Linked DNA regions of Homo sapiens: region 2 is linked to region 1. A link means that fine-mapping ties the variant in region 1 to the expression of a gene that starts in the linked region. Tissue or cell type: whole blood. Region 1 holds a variant in brackets; the other region holds the start of a gene. All regions are shown on one strand. Distances are between the middles of the regions. Region 1 overlaps VPS13A (vacuolar protein sorting 13 homolog A). Region 2 holds the start of VPS13A (vacuolar protein sorting 13 homolog A).

Region 1 (16,385 bases):
CAGGATCCGCATCCTCCTTCTGTTCACTCTCAGTGCCTTCCTTCCAAAGATCTGCTCAGAGTGTGCTGGTCTTCTTGATGGCCTGGTCTCTTGGTGGTGGAAGCTCTTCCTGACTCTGTGTCTACTTGGCCACCCTGACTCCTCTCTGTTGTCTGTTCACTGTATATAGTGTCATGTGAGGAATAAAAGTTTTAACATTTGACGAAGTCCAATTCACCTATTTTTTTTCTTTTGTTGCCTATGCTTTTGGTGTTATATCCAAGAAATCATTGCAAAATGCAGTGTCACAGAACTTTCTCCCTATGCTTTATTCTAAGTTTTATAGTTTTCAGTTTTACATTTAGCTCTTGGATCCATTTTGAGTTAATTTTTGAATATGGTATAAGCCTGTCACACAGGCTGGAGTGCAGTGGCGCAATCTCGGCTCACTGGAAACTCCGCTTCCCGGGTTCACGCCATTCTGCTGCCTCAGCCTCCCGAGTAGCTGGTACTGCAGGTGCCCGCCACAACACCTGGCTAATTTTTTTGTATTTTTAGTAGAGACCGAGTTTCACCATGTTAGCCAGGATGGTCTCCATCTCCTGACCTCGTGATCTGCCTGCTTCGGCCTCCCAAAGTGCTGGGATTACAGGCGTGAGCCACCTTGCCCAACCTATTGATCTTTTTAGAAAACTAACAGTCGGTGTCCCGGTGCAGTGGCTCACGCCTGTAATCCCAGCGTTCTGGGAGGCTGAGGCGGGTGGATCACTTGAGGTCAGCAGTTCGAGACCAGCTTGGCCAACATGACAAAACCCCGTCTCTACTAAAAATACAAAAATTAGCTGGGCATGGTGGTGGGCCCCTGTAATCCCAGCTACTCAGGAGGCTGAGGCAGGAGAATCACTTGATCCCAGGAGGCGGAGGTTGCAGTGAGCTGAGATCGTGCCACTGCGCTCCAGCCTGGGCGACACAGCGAGACTCCGTCTCAAAAAAGAAAAAAAAAGAAAACGAATGCTTTATTTTTATTTTTATTTTTTTTCCATTCTCTTTCACTTATCTTTGCTCTGATCTTTATTATTTTCTCCCTTCTGCTAGGTTTGCATTTTGTTTTGTTTTTTTCCCTATTTCCTTAAGGAATAAATTTAGGTGGTGATTTGGGATGTTTCTTCTTTTTAAACATAAACAGTTACAGCTTTATGTTCCTTCTAGCGCTGCTTTTGCTGTATCATACTAATTATGATGGTACAGTCTTTTTATTTTCATCTCGATATTTTCTAATTTTTCTTGGGGTTACCTTTTTGACCCGTTTCTTATTTAAGAGTGCTTAATTTTCATATATTTGTTCATTGTTCTGTTTCCATCTGTTATTTCCTTATTTATTTTATTTATTTATTGTTACTAGAAAAGATACCTTGCATAACGTCAATCTTTTATAATTTTACAATTTTGTTTTTAATTGACATGTATTGTGCATATTTATTAGGTACAGGGTGATGTTTCAATACATGTATACATTGTATAAAAATCAAATTGGTATTTAGAATATCCATCACCTTATACATTCATCATTTCCTTGTGGTGAGGACATTCAAAATCTTTCTTCTAGCTATGTTAAAACATGCAATACAGTATTGTTAACCATAGTCACTCTGCTGTGCAATAGAACACCAGAACTTATTCTTCCCATCTTACTGTAACTTTATTCTCATTGACCAATCTTTACCTATTTCCCCTCTCGCCAGTATTCCCCAGCCTCTGGCAACCACTATTCTATACACTACTTCTATGAGATGTCAACTTTTTTAGATTTCACACGTGAAATCATGCAGTATTTGTCTTTCTGTGCCTGGCTTATTTCCCTTAGCATTATGCCTTCCAGGTGCGTCTGTGTTGCTGCAAAGGACAAGATTATATTGTTTTGTTTTGTTTTTTTTTTTAAATGGGGAATAGTATTTCACTGTGTATATATATACCACATTTTCTTTAGCAGTGCATCTGTTTGTAGACACTTGATTTCATATCTTGGCTTTTGTGAAAAGTGCTGCAATAAACATAAAGTCCAGGTTTCTCTTCAACAAACTGATTTCATTTCTTTGGGATATTTATACATTAGTGGGAATGATGGATCATATGGTAATTTTATTTTTAAATTTTTTGAAGAACTTCCATAGTGTGTTTTATAATGGCTGTACTAATTTATACTCCCAAAAACAGTGTGTAAGAGTTTCCCTTTCTCCACAGTCACACCAGCATTTATTTTTTTGTCTTTTTGATGATAGCCAGTCTAATAGGTTGAGGTAATATCTTCTTGTGGTTTTGATTTTTATTTATCTGATGATGGGTGATGCTGAGCCTTTTCTCATATATATACCTGTTGACCATTTGTATGTTTTCTTTTCTCTTTACAAAAATTTTGACACTTGTTTTATGACCTCACATATATCCTGGAGAATGTCCCATGTGCACCTGAGAAAAATGTGTATTCTGCTGTTGGTGGGTGGAGTGTTCTGTATGTGTCTTTTGGTCCAGTTGGTCAATAGTATTAAGTCCTATATTTCCTTATTAATCTTCTGTGTGGTTGTTCTGTCCATTACTGAAAGTGGGGTATTGAAGCCTTCTACTGCTAATGTAGTGCTATCTGTTTCTCTCCTCAATTCTGTCAGTGTTTGCTTCATATGTTTTGCTGGTCTCATGTTTGGTGCATACATGTTTATAATTGTTACATCTTTTTAGTGAAGTGTCGGTTTTATCATTATATAATGCCCTTCTTTGTTTTTTGTAACAGATTTTGACTTAAAGTTTATATGTCTAATATTAGTATAGGTTGAATATGCCTTATCTGAAATGCTTGGAATCAGAAGTGATATGGATTTTGGATTTTTTTTTTCTTCAGATTTTAGAATACGTACATATACATAATGAGATATCTTGGAGATGAGACCCAAGTCTAACACAAAATTCATTTATGTTTCAAATATACCTTGTACACATAGCCCAAAGATAATTTTATACAATATTTTAAATAATTTTCTGCATGAAACAAAGCTTGTGTACCTTCAACCATCAGAAAGGAAAGGCGTCACTGTCTCAGCTGCCCATGTGGACAATCTGTGGTTGTTTGGCATCATCGTTATTCTTGACTGAATTTATATGCTGATCAGCAATAATTTTCTCACATTTATTCACACGTAAGTTGTTAACAGTAAGACATATGAGGTACCATTAATTCAGTGAAAATACAGTGTGTTCAGGGTGAGTAAGCAGCACAGTAGCATCACTGGGAATATATGTATCCACTGTTAAACAGCAGCAGCAACAAACAGTGGCAGGCAGGCTCTCAGTCTCCACCTACAATGCTGTGTTTTGATTAAAAGGTAACTGTAGAATGTACTGTATTTATTTATTTTTTTTTTCAAGTGAGAAGAAACATTAGAAGCAGTTGAGGGGCCCGGAATTGGATCCTCAGGGGATGAGGAGGCATTTTGCTAGATGGCTTTTAAAAATGTTTCCTCCAGAACCATCTGCCTCACTAACTCTTTTTTGTCTGAGAAGTCTCTGATTTTATAAACTGTCATAATTTATTGTTCTGTTATGAATGCCTGCTGCTCCAGTCCTTTAATAAGCCCATCACACATTTTCACCATGTACCATGTGGTCTATAGGTACCTTTTTGCATTGGTAACATCATCATCTTTATCTTCATCATCCACTTGTGGTATTATGTCTGCACTCAGAAAGTTTCCGATTTTGGAGTTTTGGATTAGTGATGCCCAGGTATCTTTGCTCTTTTGGTTATTTTTGCATGGGCTTACTTTTTTTTAAATCTTTTTGCTTTTGACCTATGAGTGTCCTTAGAGCCAAAGTGAGTTTCTTGTAGACCACGTACTTTTATTTTTTTTGTCTCTCTCTCTTTCTCTCTATTTATTTATTTTGAGATGGAGTCTCACTCTGTTGCCCAGGCTGGAGTGCAGTGGCGTGATGTCGGCTCACTGCAACCTCCGCCTCCTGGGTTCAAGCAATTCTCCTGCCTTAGTCTCCCAAGTAGCTGGGATTACAGGCATGCACCATCACGACCGGCTAATTTTGTACTTTTAGTAGAGATGGGATTTCACCATTTTGGTCAGGCTGGTCTCGAACTGCTGACTTCAGGTGATCCACCTGCCTCAGCCTCTCGAAGTGCCAGGATTACAGGCGTGAACCACCGCTCCCGGCTGGGATCCTGTTTATTTTAATCCATTCTGCCAATCTGTCTTTTTGTAGGAGAGTTAAGCCATTTATATTTGAAGTAGTTACAGATAGGGAAGGACTTAATATTGCCATTTTGCTAATTACTTTCTATGTGTCTTACAGCATTTCTTCTTTCTGTTTTACCCCTTAGTGCCTTTCCTTTGGTTTAGTTAATTTTTTATAGCAACTTTGATTCATTTTGTGTTTAATTAACTAATAACATAATTAATATTAACATCAAGATAGCAATGAGGTCTCGCTGTGTTGCCCAGGCTGGACTTCTAGGCTTGTGTGATCCTCCCACCTCAGCCTCCTCAAGTAGCTGGGACTACGGGTGCCTGCCACCATGCCTGGATGACTTTTGTGTATGTTCTAAAGGTATTTTCTTTGTGGTTACGATGGGGTTACATGTAACATCCTAATGTTATAGCAGTGTATTTTAAACTTTCATTAATCCCATTACCTGTATGTTACAGCTTTTGCAATTGTCCTATAGTTCTTAGACATTCTGTTCTATTATTTTTCTCATTTTCTTTTTTTATTGGCTTTGAATTGGGAAGTTTTTATTTACGTATCTTGGGGCTTACTGATTTTGCATTAAATAATTTTTTCTCAATGGTTTATTGCAAGTATATTTAAATGTAGTTTACTTTTTGCATGTTGATCTTGTATCATGCTACTTTGTTAGACTCATTTGTATAATTCTGATTAAAATGTTTGTATATATTAACATTGAGCTACAATTGCAGAGGTCAAAAGATACAATTAGTGAAGATTTGGTCAAGCATACTCTGTTAGACTATGTAGAAGAATGAAGGTGAGATAATAAGATTATAGGCAGATTATATTATCTGTTATGCACATTATTTATATATTTTTCCTGATTATGACAGGAATGAAGCATACATATTAACTTTTTAAAATGAAAAATATTTGATTGTTTGAATCTTTTTTTTAATCTTTTTTAGGAGCTGTGGCCCTCAAGAATCTTCAAATTAAAGAAAATGCCCTGGTAGGTTTTGACTATGAAAAATTTGTAAAGTTATTGCATTTAATTATGTATAATTCTTCCTGATTCAGTTTGTCACCTTAAATTATTTAAATTTGAGAAAGTTTTTTGTAAATAATTTTTGCAAAATGTAAATTTTGCTAAATGGAGTTTTAATCTCCCTGAAAGCACAAATGGACAGTGTGATTTTTTTTCTATTTAAAAATACATATTGTTTTAGGCTGGGCATGGTGGCTCATGCCTGTAATCCCAGCACTTTGGGAGGTCAAGGCAGGTGGATTATTTGAGGTCAGTAGTTCGAGACTAGCCTGGCCAACATGGTGAAACCCCATCTCTACTAAAAATGCAAAAAGCTTCGCCAGGCATGGTGGTGGACGCCAGTAATCCCAGCTGCCAGGGAGGATGAGGCAGGAGAATCGCTTGAACCCAGGAGGTGGAGGCTGTAGTAAATGGAGATCGTGCTACTGCACTCCAGCCTGGGTGACAGAGTGAGACTCTGTCTCAAAACAAAACAAAACAAAAACAAACATACAAAAAATACAGATGTTTTTATTTCAAATTTTTAACTTGTTTTCTGATTTTTTTTTTAAGACAGGCTCATGCTGTGTCACCCCAGGCTGCAGTGCAGTGGTGTGATCATAGCTTACTGTAGGCCTCAGCTCCTAGGCTCAAGCTGTCTTCCCCTTTCAGCCTCCTGAGCAGCTGAAAAGTTTTTAATCTGATAAAGACTAGTTCATTTTTTTAATTGCTTGTGCTTTTATTGTCATATTCAAGAAGTCTTTACCGAATCTAATGTCGTGAAGATTTTCCCTTATGTTTTCTTCTAAGAGTTGTATAGTTTTAGCTCTTAGGTTTAGATCTTAGATCCATTTTGAGGTAATTTTTGTATATGGTATAGGATAAGGGTTCAGTTTCATGTTTTTGCGAGTGGATATCTAGTTTTCCTAGCACCATTTATTTAAAAGGCTATTCTTTGAATGGGGAGAACGTTTTGAAAGTTTATTTTTTACAAAACGCGTATTTTGCAAAATAGAGTTTTAATCTCCCTAAAAGCATAAAATGACATTGTAATTGCCACTTCTTTTTCTTAAAATAATATAAAATTGGTAATGATTTGATATGAGTAGATTTTCTGGTCATTTTTACTGTAGACCTTTATCCCCAATTATTATTAAAAGAGCAGCTTCCCTGGATTTTATGGATTTGATAGTAATATTGCAGTTATATGTTTATATATTTAAATAAATGTTGATGATAAGGAAATGTGTAAGTTTATTAAAAAATCCCTTGAAATAATTTTTGGAAGTAAAGAGTATTCATTTATGTTGTTAAACTCTATATCTACTAATGTTTTGTGTATATATAAATTTTTTCTGTAGAGTCAACTGGATGTACCATTTAAAGTTAAAGTTGGTCACATAGGTAAGCCATATTCATTATTGGGATATCCTCCTTCCTGGACATGCAGCCAGAATAATTTGCCTAATATATCTATTATGTGATATTTTTCATGTTTCTGAGCATCAATTAAAAATAATCATGTGTTTTTGTCTCAGTAGAGCTTTGTTGTGCAACTTAAAAATATTGTCCGATACATATATCCCTTGCCTAGTATTTGATATCCTAATACATTACATATCTCTTTAGGTGGTAAATTGAGTTAATTCAAAGGATTACCTCTAAGGGAGAGCTTAACTGTTTCAGTTTCCTAGGTTTCTGTCTAGTTACCACTGCTATATTTTGATTAACATTGGATATATTGTGTAAAGAATAGGTTCTGCATCATCCAGGCCCTGTGACTAGGGGCCGATTTGAAAACTAATTTCTGCTCTGCAAGTTTTTGTATGGTTTCAGAAAATACTGTGCTTTTTCTTGTTTGGTATTATTTTTACCAGTGTTTACTGTTTATATCTTAAATATATTGGTTGAGCAGTAAATGATTGGAATTTGAGGTTTTAACATCTTTAATAAAAACTTATCTGTCATGTTTCTTGTGTTACAGTTTTACTGGTTTAAATATTGTGCAAGATAATAGTGTCTTTAGTTGGGACTTGGAGATATTTTTGTTATATAGATAGTTTTGTGGTAGGATGTATACATTGTTATTGAAGCTATACTGTTGTCACTTGGGGAACAAAGTATTCTGAAAGGTTACCTAGATTACATGATAAAGGTCTTCATAATTATGTGTACTTATGGTTGGTATTAGACCACATACCATAGAAAACTTTCATCATCATATGTTACTGACAGTAGAATTCTATCCTCCCCACTCCTACCTTTTAAAGACTGTTTACTGTAAGAGGGGGAGAATGTCACCCATTTTTATCTACCTAACATTTTAATTTTTTCATATTTCTGATTATTTACATGTGTACATTTTAAATACTTACAAGTTTATATGTATTGAAATACTTGTAATTATGCTATTTTTACAGTTTTATATTTTTTCATTAGC[G/A]TATAAAAAGGATTTCTCATAATCTGAGTTGATTTGATCTCATTTATTCTGTACCATAATAATCCAGTGAATGCATATTTGGATATTGTAGAATAATTTTATTTTTCCATTGGTACAGAAGTATTACAATACATATTTTTATATAACTTTTAAACTTTTACCAAAGGTCATTGAATTTTACAGTGATGATTGTCGTATTTCAGTGTATGTAAATTTAACCTCAATTCAAGAACAGTCAAAAAATATATCAGGAGAGTAGATAGACTATTTTCTTTAGAATCTGCCCGCCTTCTCTTTTCTTGCCTAATCTTGTTTAAAAATGATAAGGTAATTTTTAGTGATAATATAAGATAGTAGAAAGTACACTGAACTAAACCCAAGATAATTTTGAGAGTCATTTAAGGTGTTGTGTACCTCTGTCGTAGCACCTGTCTTTTAAAAATATCACTGTTTTTTCCCCCTTCTAGTAGACATCGAGTTTCTTGAGAAGAAGTGGGTTTAATTTTTAATGTATCCTCACCACTTAGCACATTACTTGGTATATATAGTAGGGGCACAATTTATTGTATGAAAGTAATACATGTTTCCAAATGAATGATACAGTAGTACAATCAGTTTTATAGGAATGTATGTCCCCTTGCTATTATTGGGTATTGATCTTTCAAAATTTCCCTCGTTTAGAATGCAGAATTATAGATATATCAAATATAAATACACATGTACATATTATAAAAGAGGTTGTCTTCTGTGGAAGGTTTTTGGAATTACATCTGTGTATTTTTTTGAAATTTGCCAAATTTTCTACTAGGAGTCTACATTTTATAAGGGAAGGAAGAAAAGGTTTGTTTGTTTGTTTGGTTTTTGAGACAGCATCTTGCTCTGTTGCCCAGGCTGGAGTACAGTGGTGCGATCTTGGCTCATTGCAACCTATGCCTTCCTGGCTCAAGTAACCCTCCCACCTCAGTCCCCGAGTAGCTGGGACTACAGGTGTACGCCGCCATGCCTGGCTAATTTTTGTAGTTTTTGTAGAGACAGGGTTTTGCCATGTTGCCCAGGCTTGTCTTGAACTCCTGGACTCAAGGGATCCTCCTACCACAGCCACCCAAAATGCTGGGGTTACAGATGTGAGCCACTGCGCCTGGTCAAGTTTGGATTTTTTAAAAAAACATTTGTGGTGAAAATGGCACACTGTTAATATGTGTTTATTATTTTTACAGTTTTGTAATTGCTCTTTGTCCTTTTGTTCATTTACTTTTTTTGAAGTATTACTGTATGTATTTTAAGCAGTCTGTTGGTACATTTATAAATAAATTAACCGTGTCAAATTTGTTACAGTTTTTTCACAATCTTATTATTTCATTTTGGTTATATTTTTGGTCTGTACAGAAATTTGAAATGATCCCCATGTTCTCTGGTTTAAAAACTTAGAAAGTTATTCCTCTTTTAGAAATCAGATAGTTTAGAGGCCGGGCAGGGTAGCTGATACCTGTAATCCCGGTACTTTGGGAGGCAGAGGCAAGAGGATTGCTTGAGGCCAGGAGTTTGAGACCAGCCTGGGCAAAATAGTGAGACTGTGACTCTACAAAAAATATAAAAAAGAAATCAGATAGTTCATTTTTCTCTGAAGTGATATTATATGATGAAATCTTTTTCTCAGTTTGAAGTTTTCTACACATGGAGTTTATAAAATATCATGAGATGGATCTAAGTGGATTTAAAAAAATTTCCCAATCACTAACCAGTTTTAGCAACATAGTATATTTAATAATCTATTCCTTACACAATTATGGCAGCTGTATAAATCTAGACACTCATACCATTTAAACAATTCTAAAATATTTTAAAACTCTCTATTACGAAAATATTCTCAAGATACAAAACTAGAGTGAGTAGTATAAGAAACCCCATACATAGTGTTTTTGTAGTTCAAGAACCCTTACGCTTAAAAAAAAAATTCTTTGCTGTTTGATTTTCTTAGGATGTTTTCATTAGTTTGCATAATTTTCAAATATTACCCAGAATATTTTATTATTACTTTATGTGTAGTTTTCATATATATAGTTTATATGTATGATTATTACCATATGTGTATATGTGAATTACTATACATACATACATACGTATGTAACACACATATACATAATGAAAAATATACATACACACACTTATTTAAAGTATACAATCTACCTTTCATTGCGGGGAGGTAAAGGTCTCACTCTGTCACCCAGGCTGGAGGGCAGTAGCATGATCATGGCTCACTGTAGTCCTGACCTCCTGGGCTCAAGATCCTCCCACCTCAGCCTCCCAGGTAGCTGGGACTACAGGCACATACTGTCACGCCTGGCTAATTTTTTTAGTTTTTATTCATAGAGACAGGGTTTTGCCATGTTGCCTAGGCTGGTCTTGAACTCCTGGGTTCAAGCGATCCACCTGCCTTAGCTTCCCAAAGTGCTAGGATTCCAGGTGTTAGCCACTGCGCCTGGCCTAATCTACCATCTTAAAGCATTAAAAAATATAGGTTTAGAGTAAGAACTGGGGAAATTCAAAGTTATGATATTAAGGATTGTTGATTAAGGGAAGAAGAACATTGTTTTGTTTATGGTACAGAGAACTGTAAATAGAAACTTGTATATTTCGAATATAATCTAGGTTTTCCAACAGTACTGATATAAATACAATAATTTCAAATCATTACAACAAACACTTGTTGTTTGTAGTTGTAAAATAGCTTTCAATAAAGTGATTAAACGCTTAAGGACAAAGGCCACTTTATTATCTCTTCAATGCCTGACAGAAAATAGACTAACCATAAATGCAGGTTGAAGGAGTAATATTTTTTGTCCTTTTTTTTTTTCCCAAAAAAATGTAGGTAATCTTAAACTTATAATTCCATGGAAAAACCTTTATACTCAACCTGTTGAAGCCGTATTGGAAGAAATTTATTTACTTATAGTGCCTTCTTCTAGTAAGTTAAATTTAAAAAAATTATAATTTAAGTTATTCTTTTTTATGGATGGAAAAATATTTATATTCAAAATACTTTTGGAATTTTTTTGAGATTTTAATATTTAAATTTGATATTTGTTAATTCAAATTAAATTGGTTTTTACTCTACATTTTTGGCAACTTTGAATTATTTATTATTTATTTATTATTATTTTTTTTTAAGATGGAGTCTCGCACTGTCACCTGGGCTGGAGTGCAGTGGCACCATCTCAGCTCACTGCAACCTCTGCCTCCTGGGTTCAAGCGATTCTCCTGCCTCAGCCTCCTGAGTAGCTGGGATTATAGGCGCCTGCCACCACGCCCAGCTAGCTTTTGTATCTTTAGTAGAGATGGGGTTTCACCGTGTTGGCCAGGCTGGTTTCGAACTCCTGACCTCATGATTCGCCCAGCTTGGCCTCCCAAAGTGCTGGGATTACAGGCATGAGCCACCGCGCCCGGCCAATTAATGATTATTTGTAAGGATTTTTTTGGAATGACTATATTTAAATTTAAGGTAGTTATGATTCTTCCTTTTTAATCTTCCTATAGGAATAAAATATGATCCTTTAAAAGAAGAGAAACAACTCATGGAAGCAAAGCAACAGGAACTGAAAAGAATAGAAGAAGCAAAACAAAAAGTAGTTGATCAAGGTAAAGAAAACAGTAAATAACAATGCTAATAAGAGAAGTAGAAAAGACCTAAATATTTATCATAATTGAATATTATTTTTCTCTGGAGATGCTGAGATTATTTCAGAAATATGATAGAATCTCATTGCATGGGGAATTTTAATGTGGTTTGTATGCTTTGTTATGTGTACAGGAATTTTACCTTATGGAAATTTATCTTAAGGCAAATAATATGTCTAGCTTATTATTATTATTAGGTTTACATATTTTTTATATATATATATATACACACACACACATATACATACTAGGTAAGGTCAGTTTTTAATGATAGCAATTAATTTTATCAAGCATATTTTCTTAATTTTCTAGCCTTTGCTTTTGTATTCCTTTTATATCAATTCTTCACCCTTTTGGAGATACTTAGTTTCTTGACATATTTCTATTTGCCTCTATCTGTTTATTTACCCTCTGGCTTCACATATTTTCCAATTAAACTTAGACAATATGTTCCATTACTGCAACCTCTTTTTCATTATTGGAAGCGGTGTCCTGAAGAAATCTAATTCCTTTTCACCTGTTCTCTGATCCTTACTGCCAGCTACTTTTTAAACTCTCACCTAGTGGGTTTTTTGCCTTGGCATGTAAATACGCTGTTCTTTATCTTGAAACATGAAGTCATTTTCTTAACCTAGTCATCTGTTTATGTTCTTCTCCTCTGTCATTCATTTAATAGTTAAACATCTTAAAATTAAAAAGTTTACTGACTTCACTGTCTCTGAAATGCATTGATTTTCTTTTAATAAAAAATAATAAGCTTCAATAATGTTTTACTTGTTGGCAAACATTAATAGAGATTTAACATGTAATTCTTGGCAATATCTCTTGTAATTCTGTTTTTTCTCTGTAACAGTTACTTTATATTATGTGTAGTCATTTATCCTTACCTCCAGTCCTCTTTCCTAAGTCTCTTAGGCCTTTTCTTTTTAAAAATTATTTTTATTTTATCAAGATAATATATATACATAGCTTTAAAAGTTAAGCAGTATTATAGTGTCCGGATTAAAAAAAAAAACCAACTGTTCCTGGCCCAGGCCCGCACCTATATTACTAAATATGGTGCTCAAACCTCTGTGTCTTGATTTATTTAGATATTATATATATATATATATATATATATATATATATATATATAAAACGTGTTATATGTAACATAACATGCATATTATCTATAACATAACATATTTTATAACATATAATTAATGACATTACATATTTTAAACTCATCTCGTGTTTCATTGGCATATATATGACATATATAATATATAACGTGTAATATATATATTACACACACATCCTTTTATGATGTACTATGAAGATTGACCCTATTTTTTCATCTTCTCTATATAGTTCTGTCACATTTTTGGTTAAATCAGAATTCATTGTTAATAGTATCATGGCTATATATAAATGTTTTATTTATATATAAATAAAGTGGCTTTAAGTATGACTGTTTATTTTGTAGGCTTTTAGTTAACCTCCCTGTTCTCCCATGTACAAAATTTGGATCCTATTAGGGCCATTTTCTCTAAAATAAACCCTTGTGTTCTCACTAGGGTGGGAAAGGGATGTTGCTTGGATATTGGGCTGGGAGAGAAGGGGACCTAACTTAACTGCTCCTTATACAGATTTAAATCAGTTCTTGTGTTATCTTCCTCTCTCTCCACTGTGTTCCATGTTTGCTATTTTTTGTTTGGTGGGGTTTCCAGTTCCTGTGTCTTTCCAGGGTTCTGTGACTTGGATTTTTGTTGTTGTTGTTGTTTGTTTTAAACTCATCTTGTGTTTTGTTTCATTACCCTGCAAGATATAGGCATTGATATGCTTTTCATGTAAAATGGATAGTTGGTTTTATTCAGGATTGGTACTTTATTGACAGTAATATGCAAAAAAAGAGCAAAGGGATTTAAGGTGTTGGTAAAATAACATATCATGGAATCTGAGCTGCATAAGGAAGTCAGGAGGAAGTAGTGGGTAGAGAAAGAAAGACAACATTTAATCGAATGACTAAATGAATTTATAAAAGAAAAGATTTTATTAGGTAGTGGTGAGAGTCAAAGATTAAAATATGATCCTCTGTCTTTAAAGAGCTTGTATTCTGTTGTCTACTTAATTCTATAATCTATTTATATGTATATATATTCATTTAACTCTGGTGTATTTGAGGTACATATGATTAGTATCTTCAGCTTTCCTTTATCTAAGGCCTCCTGGGCCAGCTGAATTTGAGAGTAATAGGCAATTAGAGGAAAAGATAGATTTATATGTATTATTTCTATATAGGAGTAGAAATATGAAAAGAGGAACAGAATTAGAAATAAAGAATATAGCTTTCATTGGCATTTTTAAGGGGAGAAAAAGGATAATAACTATGATTATCAAAGGCATATTTCAAAAAAATTAGGAACCTCAATTCTTTATTCTTCTTTATTCTTGGTTTTTCTTTTTTTTTGAGACAAAGTCTCACTTTGTCTCCCAGGATGGAATGCAGTGGTGTGATCTCGGCTCACTGCAGCCTCCACCTCTCTGGTTCAAACGATTCTCCTGCCTCAGCCTCCCAAGTAGCTGGGACTACAGGCATGGACCACCATACCTGCCTAATTTTTATATTTTTAATAGAGACGGGGTTTCGCCATAGTGGCCAGGTTGGTCTAAAACTCCTGACCTCAGATGATCTGCCCACCTTGGCCTCCCAGAGTGCTGGGATTACAGGTGTGAGCCACCTTGCCCCTCCAATTCTTGATTCTTTCTATTTCTTTGGAAAGTAATGGAACTTGAGATAGTTAATGCTGTTTTCTGAACATGAAATAGTTGATGAACTTCTTTCATCCTTGTTCAAAAGAAGAAAGAAGATCTTATTTCCTATTTTGTATTTACTGGGGGAGGAGGATATTCAACTGTTTTACACATCTATACACAGGCAACTTAATGGTGGTATCACTAATTTTGAGAGAGATTTCTGCTTTGCTGCTGTTAGTGGATTTTCTCATTTAAGTCTATTGTAATTCTTACCCAATAATCTTCATTTTTAAATATATTTTTGTACTCAGGCATAGGTTAACAGAAATTATAAAATTTAATGCCAGTAAATTCTACATGGTCTGCTTTAGTCTCATGGCACAATAAACTAGCTTTTGAAAAATGTTTACTTGCTTTTGAAAGACTTTTGGAAAGCAAGCTATTAGTGTTCTATTTACATATATATGTATATTTCAGCAAGGCAACGTAAGCATGTTACTTCAGTATGTGGATATTTATAGAGTATATTTTTCATTCAATTTTAAAAAAGGAATATTTGCAATTGTAGAACAACATCTGCCGGAAAAACAGGACACTTTTGCAGAAAAATTAGTTACACAGATCATAAAAAATCTTCAGGTGAAAATTTCCAGTATCCATATTCGTTATGAAGATGATGTAAGTATTTTAATATGTGATATTTGTTTTTATATTTATATGTAAGTTATTTTACTATTTAATGACACCTACTTTTTAATGGCCAATCTGTTAAATCCCAAAAGGTTACAGAGCTAAAGATGATGTGATCCTTCTTTTCTATAATTATAGTTGTAATTTGCAGTCCTTAGTGTTGAGTGCTTGATTTTACACTTTCCCAAAATGTTCAGACATTAGATCATGAAGGAAATGCCTTGGGAATTATGAATTTAGCAGTTATGTATTTTTAAAATACTTTAAAGTATGCTATATTTACCTCCTGGATGGAGTACTGGTCTAGCAATTAGTGGAGCTAGCCTTAAATAATTCCTTGATCCTGAATAGGTCATTTGTTTTCTCTTAACCAGATAATTATTTGCTTTATAATCCTATTTTGTTAGTCTTTTTTAATAATTTTTTTTGTAAACTGGAAAACATGCAGTATAATATTCCTGTGTAACACGAATACATTAATAATTAGTATTCTAATTTGTTTTAGGAAAAATATAGGAATGAAAGTTTTTCTGGAAAGTAATAAAATGTTTCTGAATGTTTGAAATAAGTTACTTCCCAAAAAGTTATCCCTCCCTCCCTTCCTCCCCCCACCTCCCTCTCTCTCTCTCTCTCTCTCTCTTTCTCTTTCTCTCTTTCTTTCTCTTCTCCTCTTCTCTCCCCTCCCCTCCCCTTGCCTCCCCTTCCCAAGACAAGGCCTCACACTGTCGCCAGGCTGGAGTGCAGTTGCCCGATCATGACTCATTGCAACCTTGACATTCCTTGCTCAAGTGATCCTCCCACCTCACCCCCACCCACCCACCCTGCAGTAGCTGGGACTACAGTTGCACCCCACCAGGCCTGGCTAATTTTCTTAACATTTTTTTTTGTAGAGGCAGGATCTCACTGTGTTACCCAGGCTGGTCTCCAGAGCTCAAGCAGTCCTCCTGCCTTGGCCTTCCAGAGTGCTGGGATTACAGATGGGAGCCGCTGCACATTGACAGTTTTTTCTATAAAGTGGATTTTATCCAACTACTAAAAATCTGAATAAATTTTACTTTCTTTCCTCTTTAGATCACAAATCGGGACAAACCGCTGTCATTTGGTATTTCCCTTCAAAATCTGAGCATGCAGGTATTTTGTTTATAAAAGAATCTTAACCATATTTAATGTGCAATATAGTCTATTAAACTGCTACTATTTGTATATGCCAGCATCAGAAATAGGTGTCTATGTAGAACGGGTGCACAAAGGGTCTTCATTGGATTGGAATCGAGGGTATGTAGATTCACATTTCAAAAAATGGTTGAAAATCAAATTCAGAAATATGAGGTCCTATTATTATTGGTAATTATGATGTTAGATGCTTTTGCTTACTTTAAGAAATCCATTTCCAAGTTTGTAATGAGTAAGTACCAAATACAAGTAATAAATGTTCATATCTGAAACTTCGATAAGCCTTGAAAAACAAAAATCTTCAGTTTTTCTCAATATCATTATTAATATTGTAGCATAGTGTTTTCCTGTTTAATTTTTGAAATTGAGGAATTTTAAAAATATAAGAACATGTAGAGAATTTTGAAACATATGCTTGCCTCCAGAATGGATGGCTGT
Region 2 (16,385 bases), 23 kb before region 1:
CTCCATCCTTCTCCTGGACCTACTTCATACTGCACTGATTGACCTGTTCTTGATTATCCAAACCTTTGACCCTTGGGCTCATTACCTATTTATAGACTAGCAGTTGCTGCCTGTCCTGACACTTAAGCAGCTCTCTGGCCCTGAGCCTGGCTTCCCTCCTCAGTCATAATTTGTATTTACTCCCTTTGATTACATGGCTTCCCTCTCTCAGCCAAACATCTCCCTTGCACAGACTCAGCTGCAGGCCCCAACTCCCCTTTCTATAGATATAGGTACGTACAGAATTGTTAACTAGATAAGTAATTAAGTAGTGAAAAGGTAAAGAGAGAATTCTAAGGTACTGAGGAGGCAGTTACTGCAAAAACCAGATACAACCCCAAGGGTTCAGTGAGCAAAGGGACAGACTTGGAAATTTAGAAGAGGGGCCCTCAAACTGAAACTCAGACTTCTGAGGCGAGGGGATGCTTGACTGGCCCTTGTGCCTCTGAGTTCTGAGAAGCAAACTTCTAAGGATGGGGAACAATGAAGTTGGTTCTGACTGTTTTGAGATAGTGAGGTAATGCTGATTCTGCAAGTGTTGGAAAAAATGCCAGCTAGATTAAGGTGCTGCTAAAGTGATATGGCAGAGCATAACTGCTGGCCACTAGAGACTGAGAGGTCAGGGAAGACATCACCTCTATGATTAGGTGATATCTGAGCACAGAGCTGAATCACAAGGAATCAGCTTTTAATATCAGCCATGTTAAAATCTGAGATCAAAAGCACTGGTGGACATCAGTATTTGGTACCCTCTTTTTCTGGGAAGAGCTCAGGTGTTTTAAGTATTTAGAGTCAGAGGAAGTTGCTTGAGAGTCCCTTATTGTACATCCCTCTTTCAAGTATTTTACCGGGATCACAGCATAATTGATATTTCAATACATGCTGGTAAGTCACCACATTCAGATACTTTTCTTTCTTGAATATTTTTACCAGGCACCCCGTGCAGGGATATTAAATTATTATGTAGGAGCTGTTAACTCTCAGGCTTATCTCATTCTCTGGGGCATCTCCTAGTTGACTTTGACTCAGCAAACCCTTCAAAAATTATTTTAAAAATAATTATACTTTGATAGAGAGTTGTTGCAAAAAAATCTATAGGGGGGGTCCCATATACCCTTCACCCCAGTTTTCCCCAATGGTGACATCTTATATAACTATAATGCAATATCACAATAAGAAAATAAAGATATTGGTACTATCCATGGAGATTATTCAGATTTCTCCACTTTTATATGCACTTACGTGTGTGTGTAGTTTAATGCAATTTTATATAACCACTGCCACAATCGAGATACAGAAGTGTGTCATAAACATAAGGCTCCTTCCTGCTATCCATATGTAGCCGCACCTATCCATCCTACTTATACTTAACCTTTGGCAACAACTAATTTGTTTTCCATCTCTATAAATTTGTTACTTCAAGAGTGTTTCACAAATATAATAATACATGTTTTCACTCGCATAATTCCCCTGAGATCCATCCAAGTTGTTGCATGTATCCATAGTTCACCTTTTTTTATTGCTGAGTATTCCACAGTGTGGATGTACCACAGTTTGTTTAAACATTCACCAGTTGAAAAAAATGTGGGCTGTTTCCAAGTTTTGGCTATTCATGTACAGGTTTTTGTGTGATCTATAAGGTTTCATTTTTCTGGGATAAATGTCCAGGAGTGCAATTGCTGGGTCATATAGTAAGTGCATGTTTAGTTCTTGTGGCAACTGCCAAATTGTTCTCCAGAGCGCTTAACTATTTCACAACCCCACCTCCAGTGAATAAATGATCCAGTTTCTCAGTATCCTAACCAGCCTTGGTATTGTCACTATTTTTTCCAACCATTCTGATAGATATAATATGATAAGATATTCTGATATCTCATTGTGGTTTTACTTTTCATTTCCCCAATGGCTAATGATGTTGCACATGTTTTCATGCGCTTGTTTCCATCTGTATATACTCTTCAGGAAATGTCTGCTCATGTCTTTTGGTAGGCTTTTGAGAGTTCACATCCATGTCTATCAATTATCCGATAAGGTTCAGAACCCGCTCACAGCAATTCATCAATGTGCATACATAGTTTTCCCAGAGAGTTATAAGATAACATACAACATAATAGCATTTCTGATACATCTTCTTCACCAGTTTAGAAGGGCAAAATAATACATGCTCACTACAAAAAAATTAAACTTGAAAGAACAGAAAAAATACACATTGCCAAAAGTCTCACCATATAGAGATAACCACTGTTAATATTTGGTGAGCATACTTCTAGATTTCTTTCTGTATGTAAATGCTCTGCACACTTAAAAACTCACCAATTTGTATAATTAGTGGGATACTATTCTGCACCTTGTTTCTCATGAGCATATATTATCGACATCCTTCCACACTAGTATAGACTTTCATTATCATCTTAATGCCTGTATAGTAACCCACTACGTGTGTATGTTTACTTAACCAGCTTCCCTGTTAATGGATATTTCGGTCGTTTCCATTTCTTTTTGCTATTATAAACAATGCTTTAAATAGTGTTCTTGGCTGGGCTTGGTGGCTCAAGCCTGTAATCCCAGCACTTTGGGAGGCCGAGATGGGTGGATCACTTGAGGTCAGGAGCTGGAGACCAGCCTGGCCAACATGGCGAAACCCTGTCTCTACTGAAAAATACAAAAATTAGCCGGGTGTGGTGGCACCCGACTGTAATGCCAGCTACTTGGAGGCTGAGGCAGGAGAATCGCTTAAACCCTCCTGGGAGCGGAGGGTGCAGTGAGCCAAGATCGCACCATTGCACTCCAGCCTGGGTGACAAGAGCGAGACTCTTTCTGAAAAAAAAAAAAAAAAAAAAAAAAAAAAAAAAAGTTCTTGTGGGAATAATTTTTTGGATTTTTATAATTATTTTCTTAGAGTAAATCTGTGGAAGTGGGATTGCTGAGTTCGTCATATACACATGTACGTATATATATGTATGTACGCTGATATATATACACATATGTACTATGTCAGTTTGTAAATGTTTAGGAACTGCCTTTTAGAAATATTGTGACAATTTACATTTTCCCCTGCCCTGCTTAAGTAAGATTCTTTTTTTTTTTTTTTCTGAGATGGAGTTTTGCTCTTGTTGCCCAGGCTGGAGTGCAATGGTGTGATCTTGGCTCACTGCAACCTCTGCCTCCTGGGTTCAAGCGATTCTCCTGCCTCAGCCTCCTGACTAGCTGGGATTACAGGTGTGTGCCACCATGCCTGGCTAATTTTTTTTTTTTTTTGTATTTTTAGTAGAGACGGGGTTTCGCCATGTTGACCAGGTTGGTCTCGAACTCCTGACTTCAGGTGATCCACCTGCCTCGGTCTCCCAAAGTGCTGGGATTACAGGCATGAGCCACTGTGCCTGGCCTTAAGTAAGATTCTTATAAGGTTTTTACCTTTTTGCTTGTATTCCCCTTCCAGTGAATTTTTCTCTTTTTATTAAGGATTGGAACACATGGTCTAAAGAATTTTTTTTTTTTTTTCACTGTGTCACCCAGGCTGGAATGCAGTGGCACCATCATAGTTTACTGCAGCCCCAAACTCCTGGGCTCAAGGGATCCTCTCACCCTTGGAGTAGCTGGGACTACAGGCATGTGCTACCATGCCAGGCTCCAAATAACTTTTTATTGTTTAAAATTTTTAAAGCATAAACAGATGGAGCACAGGGCTCTGTGAAGTTAGATCAGTAAAAGTCCCATACCTATAAAACGGCCATCTTCTACACTTGTTCCTCCAGGACATCTTCTGCTTCAACAGCTTTGTGGTCTGCTTCAACAGCTTTGTTATCTGGCCATCTAGCCTGCTACCACAATGCCCATGGGGAATGATAAGGACAAGCAGCCCACCAATGACATTTACTTGTGGACAAAAGAATTAAGATTAGGAGAAAAAAAAATTCCAAGATTACTACCAGTACACCAAAACTTTAAAGACGAAGAGCTGTGGCATGGAAGGTATACATAAAACTGCAAGTCCTACTTGCAAAGTTAGAGATTTATTGTAAAGTTAGATGATATTGCAGTTTGGGGTCATTCAGATGCTCTCCCCCTCTTTTGTTTTTCCATTTGATCAAACAATGAAGTATAGCATTTTAATTGTGATCTAGAGAAAGAATAACATACACTGACATACTTCCTAATTTGAAACTCGAGTTTTTATGGTAGTCATTGGGCTTATTTTTCAAGGTACAACAGAAATTTGGTTTAATGGTTTAATGAGCATACCTTTTACATGATGATGTTAATATATTTTTGCTTACAAACTTCCTTAGATGGATTAAGCAATGCAAAGACTGAATGCAAAATGTTGTCTTTTAGTATTTACAAAGCATGTTCATATACATCTAACACTAGATAAGAATTCGGTTACAATATGCATCCACTTATTTCTAACTCTTCCTCAGCAGAATTTTTTTTCATTGCTTTATGCTTATACCTCTAACTTTTCAGCAACATCCCTTCCCCTTCCTCACTTCCACAAAATTTTCCTAGATCGTAGAAAACTAATATGAAAACGTTTGCAAGATACTTAAGATGGATTTTTGGAGTTCTGGAAATTCTTGTAACTTTGAATTTGCAGCGCTAGATATAACAGCGGAATTTTGCAGCTACTGTGTATCTGGCTTCTTATTAATAGTGCAATGGCAAAATGCCTCATTATGTAGAGCTCTTCCCCTTCCTAGGCATTTTAGCCTCTATTCGTTTCTCCGTGCAGGTATTCTGAAGCAGACTGTTAGCTGAATGAGAGAGAAGCAGGTGGGGTGGTAGCCAATCAGAAGGGCCAAGTTCCAGTTCTTCCACAGAACATTGGTTGTATGACCTTGCACACATCCCTAACACTTCAGCTTCATTATATTTAAGACTAGGAGGTTGGAGACCTCATAAAGGTCCTTCAAATATAAAATTATATGAAAAACATTCATAAACTCAGGTAAAAACTTACAGTTTTTGTCAGGCATTCTACTTGCAAAGGCACACCCTAAACATTTAATTTTGAAAAGTCGGTGACTATGCACAAAAAGTAGTAAAATGACACAGGAATTAATAGAAATCCATCATTATTCATTTAACGTGTAAAGAGAAAACGCTCAATGTACACTTTTTCGGTCCTGCAGATGATTAATTACAGTTCTCTAAACCTCACATTTAGCATCTCTGTGACCTCAGGCCTTTGGGATTACTTCTAAGTAAGACCAAACAGGTCGAAAGATCTGTAATTGTAATTTATTTTAGGTCAGTGGTTCGGTGGAGGCATAGGGGTCAAGGGTCCAGCACTCCCAGTATTTCTTGGAGGGTGTTCAGCAGTTTCCAGACCGGCTGACTCCAACTCTTATCTGCAGGGAAGCGTGTTACTCTTTGGAATGAAAGACAGCTCCGTATAAATGACTTGACCAAAAATGGGTGCTCATCTCAGATGCAGGGCAGGGACTATGTAACTCCATCCTCGACTCGCAGCAGGAAGTTAACTCCTCCTGAGAGCCAGGCGGTCGGAGGACCAGGCGGGGAGGTTACAGGCACCAAGACACCCAGGCTGGCTGGACCCTCCCACCCTGTAATGATGAGGGGAGATGCTCCCTGGGACAGCCCCCTTGAAGCTTCTGGCGACGGGGCTGGGATCCGCCCACCCTTACTCAGGGGCGAGCCCTGTCATACGCGTGGAAGCGGCCACCACCTTCTAGGGGGAGGGGCGTTCCCGTCGGGCGTAACCGCCCCGCCCTGGGGGGCCGCTGGGGACGCTGATCTGCAGGAGGGGGCGGGGTCGGAAAAAATCCGGTAGCTCCAGACCGGTGTCCCGTTGCCAGGCGATGGGGAGGAGGCGGGGCCGACAGGAAAGAGGAGCCGGGCTCGGCGCGAAAAGGGCACCCTCCAGAGCCGCGGCCGCGCAGCCGCCTTTCCTCCCTCTCAGGGCTGCGCGCCCAGGTCTGCGCCGCGCTCCGCCTCCAGCCGCGCGCAGACTTGCGCACGCGTCGTGAGAGCGACCGCCTCCGTCTCTCGCTGGGCTCGCTAGGGCTGCGCGTTGGGCCAGCGGGGGCGCCGCAGCTGAAGCCGCCCCGGAGCCGGTGAACCGAATTACCTCGAGGGAGGGGCGTGGGGAAGGCGGCGGGAGGAGGAGCGCACGGGCCGGCTGCCGTGCCCACCACGGCTGAGGAACATGGTTTTCGAGTCGGTGGTCGTGGACGTGTTGAACCGGTTCTTGGGGGACTATGTGGTGGACTTGGACACGTCCCAGCTCTCTCTGGGCATCTGGAAAGGTAAGGAGGCCGCCGCCGCCGCTCCCCGGCCTCTCGTGCTTCCCGGCCGTCTCGCTGCCCGAGCGGCGTCCTGCGTTCTCGGGGCTTCGAGCACCTTGCTCGCCGGGTGCAGCCACCTGCCGCCGCCCGCCTGTGGGTCAAGTTACGTAAAGCCGGGCGGCAGTTCCCTGGCCTCCGCCCTCGAGTTGTTTATATTTTGGGGGAAAGGAGAGGGTCATGAGTGCGGGATGAAAAGGTCTATATTTTCCGAGCGGAGCGGACTTGCCGTGGGCTCCGTGGGTCTGGCGTTCAAGTCCCGGCGAGGGGCCGTTCTCTACCCCTGGCCCCGCACGGTCCGGCTTTAGCCGCGCGGGGCGAGGAGGCGAGACGACGCCTTCCTGGGCTGGGTCCCATCCCTGTCCTTTGCCCCCCTGGGTTTATGACGAAGGCCCCAGAAATCCCCCGCGTGTTGCATGCTGCCTCGCACGTGAAGGCAGGGCGCTGTGACCGGGGACGCCCGCTTCCTTGCTTCCCCAGCCTCAATTCCTGGCTTCACCCGTGGTGCTTTCTGCTCTCCCCCTTCCGGCCCTAGGACCCGGACGCCGGCTCTCTCTCGCCTGGGTTCGGCGGATAACAAAAAGGAAACTCAAGTGCAAAGTAACTCAAACAGTTGCTTGTGTGGTTGCAGTTAACAGCCTGACCTAGGAATGTGTAACATTTTCAAGACTTTAGGATATGTGGGTCAGAGTGAATTGCCGAATTTTAAAGAAAAACCAGGGCGTGCGGTGCAACGTCTCAGACCTGCAAAAGACCGGGCTGAACAGGGCCCTACGCTGCCTAGGTGGTGAAGGACCGAGCTTTCCTTGTGTCCGTTTAGTGTGGTATTCTGCCTTAGTGAGAGCCTCATTTTTAGTGTTTCCATCTGTTTTTGCATTATGCGCTTGTTTATTTTAAACACCCGCTAGAAATTAGACTCCTTTGTGAAATGAATTTCCCAGGCCAAAGTGAGGGTTAATTTTGTGTGTGAAGTGTGTGTGTTTAAATATATATTTAAAGTAATTTATTCTTGTCTGTGCACACACTTCCAGTCTTCTTCTAAAATACTTACCTTGACTCTTCTCGTTTATGAGATAATGTAAACAGGTAGTTTAGTTTGATTTTAAAGAATGTTACTACCGTGGGGACCTAGTATCATGATGGAGAGTGAGTGGACTACAAAAGCTAGGGATATAGTGATAGCTGCTCAGCCTGTTTGATTAGTACAAGAAACTTGCAGTCTGTTTATGCTGCTTCTTAGTTGCAAAGTGAAAATAAAATTTGTCTCCCATGTACCTCAGAAGGAAGCCTTAAGAATACTTGAGGTGAACTTTGATCTGTAGTGGAGTCTTGCTTCCACATTCAGGGTGGAGGTTTGTCTAGAGTGTGATTAATCAACTTATTTATTTGTTTAAAATTTACATGCAGTAAAATTCACTCTTGTGATACAGTTCTGTCTTGACAAATGCTAAGAGGCATGTATGCACCACCACAATAATGGCACATAAAAGGTTCATCAAGCCTCCCGAATTCTCTCAGCTGCTCCTTTGCAGTTGATCTCACCCCGCCACCACGCCCGGCTAATTTTTAGTAGAGAGGGGGTTTTGCAATGTTGGCCAGGCTGGTCTCAAACTCCTGACCTCAAGTAATCCGCCTGCCTCTGCCTCCCAAAGTGCTGGGATTACAGGCGTGAGCCACTGCGCCCGCCTGACTGTAAGTATTTATCTGTTTGCTGGTTGAAGAATATTTCAGTTTTTGGAGGTTATAAATAAAGCCGTCATAAACATTCACGTACGGGTGTTTGTGTGAACATAATTGTTATTTCTCTTGGATAAATACCTAAGAGTGGTTTTAAATTGGGTTGTACGTTTTTTTTTTTTTTTTGAGATTTATTTCATATACCATAAATTTCACTCTTTTAAAATGTACAATTCAGTGTTTTTTAGTATAGTCACAAAATTGTACAACCATCACCACTCTCTCATTCCGGAATATTTCAGCACCCCAAAATTAAATCGTATGTCCATTAGGAGTGACTCCCAATTTCCTCCCTTCTCACTACTCCACCTCTGGCAACCACTAATCTTTCTGTCTTTATGGATTTGGTAATTCTGGACATTTCATTTAAATGGAATTATATGATATGTGGCCTTTTGTTTCTGGCTTCTTTAACCTAATGTATTTTCAAGGTTCCTCCATGTTGAAGGATGTATGACTATTTCATTTGCTCTTAGGGTTGAATAATATTCCATTATATTCATAGACCACAATTTATTTATCTATACTCACCAGTTGCTGGATGTTTAGATTATTCCTAAACATCCACCTTTTGGATATTATGAATAATGCCACTGAACATTCATGTACAAGTTTTTTTGTGGATGTATGTTTTAAATTCTCTTGGATATATACCTAGAAGTGGAATTGCTGGGTCATATGCTGACTTTGTGTAACCTTTTGAGGAACAGCCAAACTCTTTTTCCAGAGTGTTTGTTTTCTTATGGTTGAGTTTTGAGAGTTCTTTAAATATTAAGGATACAATTTCTTCATCAGATATGTAATTTGAAAATACTTTCTCAGTCTTTTCCCATTTTGTCTTTTGCAGAGCATACATTTTTGATTTTGGGAAAAGCCCAGTTTATAAAACATTTCTTTTATGAATCATGGCTTTTGGTATTCATATCTAAGAAATCTTTTCCCAACCCAAAGTCAAAGATGTTCTCCTGTGTTTTCTTAAGGAAGTTTTGTAGTTTTAGGTTTTGGATTTCTTTTTGTATAAGGTGTGTGATATGTGTTGAAGGTTGAGGTTCATTTGTTTGCATGTGGATGCAAATATCCAATTGTTTAGCACCACTTGCTAAGAAAGAGGATCCTTTCTCTATTGAATTATCTTTGCATTTCGTAAAAAAAAAATCAGTAGACTTAATATTGTGTGGCTTTAGTCTGTCTCAATCTGTGTGTCTATCATTTCACCAATACTACACTGTCTTGATAACTGTGTCTTTGTAGTTAGTCTAGAAATCAGGTAATGTGATCCCTCTAACTTTAGTCTTTAACAAATAATTTAAAAAATAACAAGTCATTGTCCAGGTGTGGTGCTCATTCCTGTAATCCCAGCACTTTGGAAGGCTGAGGCGGGAAGATTGCTTGAGCATAGGAGTTTGAGATTACAGTGAGCTCTGATCATGCCACTGCATTCCAACCTAGGCAACAGACAGCGAGACTCTGTCTCAAAATAAAATAAAATAACATGTCAGTGTTTTATTTATAGAAATTGGTTATGTTTTGATAAATGAAACTTTAAATAATAGCTGGAGTATTTTTTTAAAATATTCTTTGAGAATTTCAAAAGTAGTAATTTGATAAATTTGGAGGATTTTTTAAAAACATTGTTTGAAAATTTCTGTAATAGAAACTAGGTGGCCAGGCATAGTGGCTCATGCCTGTAATCCCAGCACTTTGGGAGACTGGGGAGGGTGGATCACTTCAGACCAGCCTGGCCAATGTGGTGAAACCTCATCTCTACGAAAAAAATAAGATACAAAAATTAGCTGGGTACTGTGGCGCTCGCCTGTAATCCCAGCTACTCAGGAGACTGAGGCAGGAGAATCACTTGAAGCTGGGAGGCATAGGTTGCAGTGAGCTGAGATCACACCATTGCCCTCTAGCCTGGCCAACAGAGCGAGACCCTGCCTCAAAAAAAAAAAAAAAAAAAAAGAAACTGGATGCTGCATAGGAAAATTTTAAGATAATATTTTATGGTCTAACGTGAAGGACCTATTGGTAGTTGTAAATGTGTGCTTTTGCTAGGCTTCTGAAATAATCCAGCAAATTTCAATATTAGCATGTTACTATAATAGTATCAATTAGTATTCAGTCATTGCTAATAATGGATGGTGCTCTGAAAATTTGTTGCTGAGATGGATTCTTTGGAAATCAGAATGCATTTTTCCCATGGAAGCATTCTTATATATGAATGAGGACTTTTCCAAAAACCTGTTTAACTATAATGCAGCAGAAGAGTGCTACTGTACTGGGTTCAATACAGTAAGTAGACTCACTGCTAGAAGACTCTGTCTTACAGGGGATGAAAAAGGAATTGAGCTTCATTCCAGGACTGACTCTTGGCAAATTTTGATGTTGGTAAGGTATACTTTTTATACACTTCTATTTATAATTCTCCCTTCCCATATATCATCTAGTTAGAGAGGTGGTAATATTTCATAGACTCATCTGAAATTTATCTTCCCAACTTTCTCCAGCAATTTTCTTTTTCTTTTTCTTTTCTTTTTGAGACGGAGTCTCGTTCTGTCACCCGGGTGGGAGTGCAGTGACGCGATCTCGGCTCACTGCAACCTCTGTCTCACGGCCTCAAGTGAGTCTCCTGCCTCAGCCTCCCGAGTAGCTGGGATTAAAGGTGCCCACCATCATGCATGGCTAATTTTTGTATTTTTAGTAGGGACGGCATTTCACCACGTCAACCAGGCTGGTCTCGAACGCCTGACCTCAAGTGATCCACCTGCCTTGGCCTCCCAAAGTGCTGGGATTACAGGTGTGAGCCACTGCGTCCGGCCATTTCACATATTTTCTTTAAGAGCTAGGCTGCATCAGAATCAGCCATAGGTGCTTATTATGAATACAGAACCTGCCCCCAGAGATTATAAATTATTTATCTGGAGTAGGACATGAAAATATTTTTTTAAACAAATGACACTGGGGACTTGATGCACAGTTGGGTACATTTTAAGAGAACATTAAGGGGAAAAGTATTAGAATTTTAAATAGACAAAAGCAGTAGTAAAAGTGGCTTGTGTGATAGAATTATCATTTGTAACACAGGAAGTACCTGTACTTCATAGCCCCTTCTTAAGTTAGCCTCCTTTGTCTCTATTTTGTTTTCTCCGAAATCACAATACTTGGACAAATTTGTAATTTTTTTTTGATAATGCCTGACATCTTTATGTAACATTAGAAGTTCAGATTTCTTGTCTATTAACTAACATACGTATTCTGTTTTTGAAATGTTAATCTCCCAGTTTTCCCTTTATAATAGAATCATGTGTTTAGTGGCCACTTAGCTGGATACCGCCATGATACCAGAAGCAGTACAAAAGATGAAGATTCAGTTAGGATACAGTTTTCGATTTTTAAGGAGTCATTCTTCTGTGCCCAGAATACACTAGGGAGCCAAACAAATGATTCTTACAGTCTGGTGTTAATGACCAATTCTAATTCCTTATGTATTATTTTTATATTTATGTTCTAAGATACTTTAATAAAACTTTAAAGACTATGAAACATTTTATTATAAAAAGTGTTAGGAGATTTTACAGTGCCTCTCCATATACCCATTATCTAGATTCTGTCATTAATATTATGTATTAACAGCTTTATTGACGTATAATTAACATGCAGTAAAATACACGTTAAAGTCTACAATTTGATAAGTTTTAGCATATATGTGCATGCAGGTAACAATCATCACATGATAATGAACATATCTGTCATACCTAGAAGTTTCCTTGTGCCTTTTTGTAAACCGTATCTTCTAACCCTCCTTGTCCCTTATACCCTTCTTGTCCCCAGGTTTTTGCTGATTTGCTTTCTGTTACTGCATATTAGCTTGAGTTTTCTAGACTTGGATAAATGGGATTGTACAGTTTGTATTCTTTCAGTCTGGCTTATTTCAGCATAATTATTTTGAGATTCATCCATGTGGTAGTACAATCAATAATTTATTCCTTTTTATTGCTGACCATAGCAAGTGGTGGTGAGGATGTGCAAAAACTGGAACTCTGTTAATATGTCTCCTGGGGATGTAAAATGTTAAACAACTTGGGAAAACAGTTTGGCAATTTCTTAAAAAGTTAAACATACATCAACCATGTTATCAAGCCATTGTGCTTCTACATGTTTACCCAAGAGAAATGAAAGCATATGTTCATACAAAGATTTGCACACAGATGTGCATAGCAGCTTTATTTTTAATAGCCCCAAATGGGAAACAGTCCAAGTATCCACCAACAGGTGAATGGATAAACAAACTGGCATATCCATATAATGGAATACCATTAATATTTAACCACACATGTTTTGTCACATACCTGTCCATCTGTCCATCTCTCTATCCATGCAGCAATTCATATTATTAAATGTATTTCAGAATAAGTTGTAGAGATGAGCTCATTTCCTCCTAAATACTTCAGCATGTGTATCATTAGAGTGCAATATTTGCTTAGTTTTTTTCCTTTTGAGGTAAAATTTATGTAGAAGAAAATATACAAATCTTAAGTGTACATTGACTGAGTTTTGACAAATACATACACACATGTAACTCAAACCCAGTCAAGATATAGAACATGACCATCACCCCAGAAAGTCTTTTTCCTGACCTTTCCTAATTTATTCCTACCCTCATCTTCAGAGGCAACAAATACTCTAATTTTTTTCTTTCTGTCATACATACACATCTATTCTGCTTTGCTGAGAGTGTTTTCTTTTCCTTCAAGAATGTTGGAGCCAGGCATGATGGCTCATGCCTGTAATTTTAGCACTTTGGGAAGCTGAGGTGGCCAGATCAGTTGAGGCCAGGAGTTCGAGCCCAGCCTGGCCAACATGGTGAGACCCTGTCTCTACTAAAAATACAAAAATTAGCTGGGTGTGGTGGCGGGCACCTGTAGTCCCAGCTACTTGGGAGGCTGAGACACGAGAATCGCTTGAACATGGGAGGCGGAGGTTGCAGTGAGCCGAGATCGTGCTACTGCACTCCAGCCTAGGTGACAGAGCAAGACTCCGTCTCAAAAAAACAAAAACAAAAGAATGCTGGATTTTGTCAAATGTTTTTTTCTGCATCTATTACTATTATCACAGGATTTTTTTCTTTTTTAATCTGTTGGTGTGATACATTACATTAATTGATCTTTGAATGTTGAACTAGCCTTGCATACCTAGAATAAATCCCATTTGGTCATGACGTGTATGTTTAGCACTCAGTATCTCCAGGGGTTTAGTTCCAAGACCTGTGCAGATACCAAAGTCCACAACAGGGAGGGCATGGAAGCTCCCCACCACCTTACTTTGCTCTGTCCATCTCTTTATCTGTATCCTTTGTAATATCCTTTATGATAAACTGTTAAATATAAGTATTTCCCTGAGTTTTGTGAGTTATCCCAGCAAATTATCAAACCAAATAAAATCAGGTGCGAACCCTGATTTATAGCTGGTCAATCAGAAGCACAGATCACAGCCTGCGACTTGTGACTGACATCTGAAGTGAGGGGCAGTCTTATGGAACTGAGCCCTTACCATGTGGGATATGACATTATCTCTTTTTTTTTTTTTGAGACAGAGTCTCGCTCTGTCGCCAGGCTGGAGTGCGGTGGCGCAATTTTGGCTCACTGCAACCTCCGCCTCCCGGGTTCAAGTGATTCTCCTGCCTCAGCCTCCCGAGTAGCTGGGACTACAGGCGCCTGTCACCACACCAGGCTACTTTTTGTATTTTTAGTAGAGACGGAGTTTCACCATGTTGACCAGGATGGTCTTGATCTCTTGACCTTGTGATCCACCTGCCTTGGCCTCCCAAAGTGCTGGGATTACAGGCGTGAGCTACTGCGCCCGGCTCGATATGACACCCTTTCTAGGTAGATAGTGTCATTATTTAATTGAATTATAGTTAGTGTCTGTTGGAGAATTGTTTAGGGATTGGGGGAAAAACTTCACATATCTGGTTATCTAAGGGTTCTGTGTCGAATATGAGAGTAGAGAGAAAAACCTTTATTTTCCTTTGACAGTGTCTTATCATATTTATAGCTGTTTTCTGTTTTGTTATACTTGTTTCCTTTTTAAACAGTCTTCCCCTCCTCTTTTGCCCTCTCTGGTTTTAATTGATCATGTGATATGATTTAATTTTTTTCTCCTGTCTTAGCATACCAATTATGCTTCTTAAACAATTTATTTAAGTGGTTGTATTACAGTTTGTGCTGTTCACTTAAAACTAGTCCAAGTCCACGTCCAAATAACATTATAGGTCAGGTATAGTGGCTCACGCCTGTAATTCCAGCATTTTGGGGGACTGAGGCTGGCGGATCATTTAAGGTTAAGAGTACGAGACCTGCCTGGTCAACATGGTGAAACCCCATCTCTACTAGAAATACAAAAAATTTGCTGAGCATGGTAATGTGCGCCTGTAGTCTCAGCTACTCAGGAGGCTGAGGTATGAGAATCTCTTGAACTGGGAGGCAGTGAGCCGAGATTGTGCCACTTCACTCTAGCCTGGGCGACAGTGCGAAACTCTGTCTCAAAAAACACAAAAACAAAAATCCCACTATACTACTTCATGGAAAATGGAGGTAGTATATGTAATACTCTATCTTACAATACAGTATACAGATTCCTCCCTTCTGCCCATTGTAACATTGTTGTCATTAATTTCACTTACCTATAAGCTGTAATAATCCAATGCATTGCTGCTATTAGTATTTTAGACATTTTTCTATTAATTTAAGAATAAGGAAGAAAAGACTTAATTTACCTTCATCTCTTAATTCTCTAATGCTCCTGTGAATCTGAGTTTTTGGTTTAAATCATTTTCCTTCTTTCTGAAGAACTCCTTTATTTATTTGTTTTTTTTAATTTTTGAGATGGAGTCCTGCTGTGTTGCCCAGCCTGGAGTGCAGTGGCGCAGTCTCTGCTTACTGCAACCTCTGCCTCCTGGGTTCAAGCGATTCTCCTGCCTCAGCCTCCTAAGTAGCTGGGACTACAGATGCATGCCACCATGCCCAGCTAATTTTTGTATTTTTAGTAGAAATGGGGTTTCACTATGTTGACCAGAATGGTCTTGATCTCTTGACCTAGTAATCTGCCCGCCTCGGCCTCCCAAAGTGCTGGGATTACAGGTGTGACCCACCACACCCGGCCTATCTTAACCATTTTAAGTGTACACTTCATGTCATTAAGTACACTTACATTGTGCAACCATCACCACCATTCATCTCCTGACTTCACCATTATTCATCTCCTGAATTCTTCATCTTGCAAAACTGAACCACTTACCCGTTAAGCAATGACTACCCATTCCACCGTCTTCCCAGACCCCAGTAACCGTTATTCTACTTTTGATGTCTGTAAATTCGAATACTTGAAGTATAAGTGGAATTATACAGTATTTGCCATTTGTTATTGGTTTCTTTTACTTGGCATAATGTCCTCAAGGTGCATCCGTGTTGTAGGAAATGTCAGCATTTCAATAATTTTTCAAGCTAAATAGTATCCCATTGTATGTATATACTGCATTTTGTTTCTCCATTCATCTGTTGATGAATAGTTGGGCAGCTTCCACCTTTTGGCTGTTGTGAATAATGGTGTTATGAATGTGGATATTTTTCTTTGAAGTTCAGTCTGTGCTGTCAGATTTTTGGGTTACATACCCAGAAGCAGAATTACTGGATCATATAGTAATTCCATTATCAATTTTTTTGAGGAATTATCATACTACTTTCTATAGTGACTGCACCATTTTACATTCCTACCAACAGTGTACAAAGGTCACCATTTCTCCACATCCTCACCAACATTTATTTTCTCTTTTTTTGATAGTAGTTATCCTAATGGATATGAGGTGGTATCTTGTAGTTTTCATTTACATTTCTCTAATTAGTAATGTTGAACATCTTTTCATGGGCTTATTGACCATTTGTATATCTTAATTGGAGAAACATCTATTTAAGTCCTTTGTCCATCTTTTAATCAGGTTGTTTGTTTTTTGAGTTGTAAGAGTTTACATACAAACATACACACACACACACACACACACACACAATGTTAGCTGCTTATCAGATATATGATTTGCAAATATTTCCCATTTTGTGTGTTACCTTTTCTTCCTTTTTTTCCCTGCTAACTTTTATTTTAGGTTCATGGGGTACATGTGTGGGTTTGTTGTGTGGGTTAATTGTGTGTCACTGGGGTTTGATGTATAAATTATTTTGTCACCCAGGTAGAGAGCATAGTACCCGATAGATAGTTTTTTGATCCTCACCCTCCCCACACCCTCCACCCTCAAGT

Evidence for each region.
Region 2: it holds the start of VPS13A, and the variant in region 1 is fine-mapped to the expression of VPS13A in whole blood (TOPMed, PIP above 0.99).

What each region holds. Positions count from the first base shown.
Region 1 is chr9:77,194,771-77,211,155 of GRCh38, forward strand. It overlaps VPS13A (vacuolar protein sorting 13 homolog A), which reads left to right. Exons shown (of 72, transcript NM_033305.3): 2 at 5,175-5,218; 3 at 6,595-6,637; 4 at 10,543-10,638; 5 at 11,208-11,309; 6 at 14,653-14,762; 7 at 15,846-15,905. Among named protein-coding and RNA genes, the nearest start is that of VPS13A-AS1, 25 kb to the left of the region's middle. The variant G/A (reference allele first, on the strand shown) is at 7,674.
Region 2 is chr9:77,171,497-77,187,881 of GRCh38, forward strand. It overlaps VPS13A (vacuolar protein sorting 13 homolog A), which reads left to right and starts at 6,038. Exons shown (of 72, transcript NM_033305.3): 1 at 6,038-6,308. The coding sequence starts at 6,209. VPS13A-AS1 (VPS13A antisense RNA 1) reads right to left here and starts at 6,421. Exons shown (of 2, transcript NR_026668.2): 1 at 6,131-6,421; 2 at 5,260-5,410. RefSeq lists silencers at 5,666-5,995, 5,757-6,051, 7,034-7,203 and an enhancer at 5,757-6,051.